2 separate regions of the Homo sapiens genome follow, and region 2 is linked to region 1. Evidence: fine-mapped expression QTL. Tissue or cell type: whole blood. Region 1 holds a variant in brackets; the other region holds the start of a gene. All regions are shown on one strand. Distances are between the middles of the regions.

What was found. PIP is the estimated chance that this variant, and not a neighbour inherited with it, causes the effect.
Region 2: CCDC57 starts here. The variant in region 1 is fine-mapped to the expression of CCDC57 in whole blood (INTERVAL, PIP above 0.99).

Annotation. Positions count from the first base shown.
Region 1 is chr17:82,122,210-82,124,963 of GRCh38, forward strand. The region is part of intron 18 of CCDC57 (coiled-coil domain containing 57); the gene reads right to left. Among named protein-coding and RNA genes, the nearest start is that of FASN, 25 kb to the left of the region's middle. The variant CT/C (reference allele first, on the strand shown) is at 1,084.
Region 2 is chr17:82,211,372-82,213,871 of GRCh38, forward strand. It overlaps CCDC57 (coiled-coil domain containing 57), which reads right to left and starts at 1,471. Exons shown (of 19, transcript NM_001394669.1): 1 at 1,414-1,471. RefSeq lists a silencer at 1,012-1,931 and an enhancer at 1,882-2,500.

The sequences.
Region 1 (2,754 bases):
CTGAGCATGTAAGAGGAAATGAAAGGAATCTGCCAGAACCGTTTCCCACCACCAGGCCAGCTGCTGGGACCAGGGACAGCCTCCCTGGGGCCTGTGCACTCCCGCACGGTGGAGGCTGCCCTGGCCACTGCTGCAGACCCTTTGCAAGGGCGTCTGTCCAGCAAGCAGCTCAGAAGTCGGAGCAAGCATCTCCCTCAGGCCCAGGGCAGGTGCTTGTGGCGCTCTAGGACTCGGAGGGCAGGTGCTCGTGGTTGCTCTAGGACTCGGAGGGCAGGTGCTTGTGGTCGCTCTAGGACTCGGTCCCCAGGCCTGGGTTCCTCAGCTGAGATGCATACCCACTGCACCTGCAGCCACTGCCTGCCCAGCTGCCTGCTATGTGGACAGAGCCCTTGGTCTCTGACCCAGGAGCCTCCTGTCTCCCGCCAGGCTTGCTTGTCAGCTTGCAGGCTGGGCAAGTGCACAGCACTGGCTGCAATCAACCTTCTGGCTTCGGTGCCCACCTCTGCCTCTGTCCTATTAAAGGCCAGCCCTGCACACGGGCACCGAGCCCCTTCCCCTGCCTCCTCCAGGACTTCTCTCCTGAGTCATCCCATTTCCCACTGCCTACCGGCAGGCTTTACATGACAGCTTGTGAGCCTCCCCTCTTGACTCCACATCTTCATAAATACGGCCTCTTTTCACTGCTGATTTTCAGAGCAAAGTTTCTTGGATATGTTGTCCATCCCATCTCCCATCCTCTCCCCAAGCCGGGAAGGATTGAATGAAAATTCTACTACCCCCCTGAGACCACACTTAAGACCACCAGTGACCTTCACCTTGCAAAAAAGCAGGGGCTGCTTCTCTGTCCTGACCTAACTGGACCTACCTGTAGCGTTCCACTGCACAGTTTAACCACTCCTTCCCTCCTAATAACTTTTTTTTTTTTTTTTTTTTTGTAGAGACAGGGTCTTGCTCTCTCACCCAGGCTGGAGTGCAGTGTGTAATCACAGCTCACTGCGGCCTAGAACTCCTGGGCTCAAGTGATCCTCCTGCCTCTGTCTCCCAAAGTGCTGGGATTACAGGCATGAACCAGTGTGCCCGGCC[CT/C]TTTTTTTTTTTTTTTTTTGAGATGATGTCTCACTACATTGTCCAGGCTGGTGTGGAACCTCTGAGTTCAAGCGATCCTCCCACTTTAGCCTCCCCAAATGCTGCAATTACAGGAGTGAGCCACCGCCCGGCCTATAGCAATTTTCATGTCAGACAAAATAGGTTTTTTGGTGAAATACAACATGAGGGGTTATGAGGGATGTTACATACTGGTAAAGGGAGGAAAAGATCAAGAAGGCAAAAAACCTAAACATGTATGCACCTAACAGCGAACCTCAAAACACATAAAGCAACAATTGACAAAAACAGATAGATTGATAATTGTAGTTTAAGAACTAATATTTCCCTCTCAGAAGAGTTAACATCATAGTAATTTAATTCTCTGACCAGAATGTAAAAATATTAGAAATCAGTAACAGACAAAAAAATAAAATTCCACAAATCTAGAAACTTAAGGAAAAATTCCATTTAAGTTAAAGCAAAATGAGTTGAGTTATAAGTCCTACAAGGGAAAGACAAGGGAAACATGAGGATGTTGAGATTTATGAGACATGGTTAAAGCAAAGCAACGCTTGGAGGAATATGCATTTCTTTGGCTGCATTGGTCAGAAAACAAGACAGATTTCAGACTTGAAGAAGGCATCATGAAGCTAGCACTCCTCCACTATCCTTGTAAATCATCCAAAAGCAAAAAAAAAAAAAAAAAAAAAAAGATAATGAAAAGCAAAAATGCAAACTTCATTTTCATTAAAACTAAGAGCTAGAATTGGTGGTGGTGGCGGGGGCTACCAAAGGCTGCAGGAACTCGGCAAGGGCTGTGTCAAAGACATACAGATGCCTCGTTACAGACCCCAGAAAGAGCAGAGGGCATTTCTCTAAGGCAAGGGTACACCCTGAGGGTAGGACCTAATTCCTTGTTTCAGGAGTAGGAACATGGGCTGGCAGCAAGTGCTTCCCTGACCTTGTTCCGTTCCTGGAAGAGAGGAGGGAGAGTGAACCAGGAACAGAACAGGCCCTATCTGCAAAGTGCAGTATCTGTGGGGAAAGGGAAGAGAGAAGCTGTATCAGCTGTTAAAAGCCTGATAGGTGGAGACTTGTATTTAAAGCTAAAATCAACGACACGACTCTGCTGGGCTGGAAGATGGTTCTGGCTTCATTTTCCATACAAACTTTTTCAAATAGCTAGTCAAGTAAAAATTTACCTGTTCTAAAGATGAGGCCAGGCACGGTGGCTCATGCCCGTAATCCCAGCACTTTGAGAGCGTAAGGTGGGAGGATCACTTGAGCCCAGGAGTTCGAGACCAGCCTGGGCAACAGAGCGACACCTTGTACCTACAAAAAACTAAAACAATCTTAGCTGAGCGTGGTGGCGTGTCCCTGTGGTCCCAGCTACTTGGGAGGCTGAGGTGGGAGAATCACTTGAGCCCAAGAGGTCAAGGCTGCAGTGAGCTGAGATTGCCGCACTGCACTCCAGCCTCGGTGACAGAATGGGACACTGTCTCTAAAAAGAGAAAAAGAAAAAAAAAATGAGGGGGGAGCCAAGAAACGAAAGTGCTCCAAGAGAAAAGGAGAAAGGAAACAAGCAAACGAATGAACACGAACGTCTCCAGAAGAACTTTCCATTGAGTTGATGAAAATTTGGACAAAATGTTTTGTGGTGAATTAAAAAT
Region 2 (2,500 bases), 89 kb after region 1:
GCTAAGCAAGAATAAATACTGGAGACCAGATCATGGGATGATACCAACATGAACGCCAGCGTCTACATGTTGCTGAATGAACTGTGGTTCTCTAAGAGGTCAGCATTCTAGGGGCTCTGGGCAAAAGGCACACGGGAAATCTGTGCTCCTTTTGTATCCTTTTTCTAAGTTACAGATAATTTTTTTTTTTTTTGAGACCGAGTTTCGCTCTTGTCTCCCAGACTGGAGTGCAATGGCGCGATCTTGGCTCTCCGCAACCTGCGCCTCTCGGTGTGGTACCCTACTTTGTTTTAACCTGACTGACTCTCTCTTAGCTGAGAGGGCCGGACAGACACCATTTTGGTTTCTTCGCTTGCAGCCCCTTGTCCCCGTCCCTTAAGGACATAACTGGGGCAAGCTGACTCCAAGCACATCCAGGAATGCGCTTACTGATAAAATACTGATAAGAAACTGGAGCAAGCTGTACCAGCAGCTCCTGGGAACGCGCTCGGTTGATGGTACCCAAAGCCCCTGCGTTTATCACTTTGTGATAATTTAAGCCCCTGTACCTGGAACTGTTTATTTTCCTGTAACTGTTTCTGTAACCATTTATCTTTTAACTTTTTGCCTATTCTGCTTCTGTAAAAAAATCGCTTCAGCTAGCCTCCCCTCCTCTATTTAGACCAAGGTATCAAAAGAAATCTAGCCCCTTCTTCGGGGCCGAGGGAATTTGCAGCTCTAGCAGTCTGTCAGTCGCTGGCAATACAGGACTCCTGAGTAGTCTCAGAGTGTGGCGTTCTCTCTATAACTCCCTCAGTTACAACATCGGGTTCAAGCGATTCTCCTGCTTCAGCCTCCGGAGTAGCTGGGATTACAGGCGTGCACCACCACGCCCAATAATTTTTGTATTTTTAGTAGAGAGGGGGTTTCACCATGTTGGCCAGGCTGGTCTCGAACTCCGGGCCTCAAGCAATCTGCCCGCCTCTGCCTCCCAAAGTGCTGGATTACAGGCGCGAACCACCGCCTCCGGCCTTTTTTTTTCCTCTCTTTTTTTTTTTTTTTTTTTAAACTCACAGACACTGTAAGGCTGCCTGGGCGCGGAGCCGTCCTTGCCGGCGGCGGAACCCGGGGAATTCTCCCGGGGCTGCGGGGCCCTGGTCGGCAGCGCCCACCGCCCCAGGTCACCCACGGGAGACCGAGGGAACGCTCCCGCTCCACGCGGCCGCAACCCCCGCCCCGCCCCGCCGCAGCCTCCGCGAGGGGATCCCCGGTCCGGGCCTGGCCGAGCTCTGAGGGTCGACCTCGCGCTCCAGGTCCCCACCAAAGCGCTGCGTCCGACAGGACGGCAGCTGCTGGGGTTTTCTACAGGAAGAGTGGTCGGAGCGGCGCCCCCCACGCCTCCCACGCCTCCCACGCCGCCCGCCCGCACCTCACCCTAACGCCCGCCAGCAGCGCTGGCCAGGTCCCGCCGCGTTGCCACAGCGACCGGGTCAGTCGGCCGCGTCCGGCTGCGCTCGGTGCAGCGCTCGGGTCCCGCCGACAGGAAACGGGGTCCCTGGCGCTAGGTTCCGGCCCCTCCCGCCCCGCCGGGTTCCGCGCTGCGCCCGGGTCCGAGGGGCGCCCCGGCCGACCCGACCACCGCCGCAGATCGAAGGAGGGAGCCCGGCCTCCTCACCGGTCAGCGGGGCGACTCCGGACGGGGCTCCGGGCTATGGGGACGGCGGGTTCCGCCGCGCGAGGCGCCCCCACCTTCGCCGCCCCCGGCCCGGCCGAGGGTCCCCAGGCGCCCGCTTCCTGAGGCCGCCCGGCTCGCGGTCCCGAAGGGTTGACTTGAGCTTTTGCCCTGAGATGAAGGGAGCACGGGGCGGCCGAGGCTGCCCGTGGGGGTCTGTTCGGGCCGGGGGCGCCACGAAGTCCTGCCTAAGGGTCGGCTGCGGCCACCGGGGCACGAGTTCCCGGCGCTGCCCACGGGCTCGGAGACCGGCGGGGCCCAGGGGCCGTGCGCGCGGTCGCTCAGACCCTGATTAGGGAACTGGGGGAAGGAGGGGGGTCGGGACCCACCGAGGCCCGAAGTCGCCCCCACCATCCTGTGGGAACAACATCCTCAGGCACAGCCATTCCCAACCATTCACATCCTCAGAAAAAGGCACGTGTCCGTATCCATCTGCGGATGGATGAACAGAGCCCGGCCCCGGGACAGAGCAGCCTGGCTCACCCGAACCCTCAGCCCGCAATTCTGCGTGGGAGTGGAGGGGGTGTTTGGTGTCTGGGAATTCCCCTGGTGGGGCAATAAGCCAGGGGTCTGGTGTCATCCTCCACCCACATTGTTAACACTGGATCACTCCTCTCCGTGCCGTGCCTGCAGCCCAGGCACCCTGCAGCCTGTCCTCCCCGAACCATGCGTCCTGGTAGAGCTGTCTCCCTCGCCCACAGTCCTCAGTCCCGCCTCACACACCAAACCCTCTTCTGCCTCAGGTCCTTTGCGCCAGTTGCCTCTGCCTAGACTTGGTTCCCTGGATGC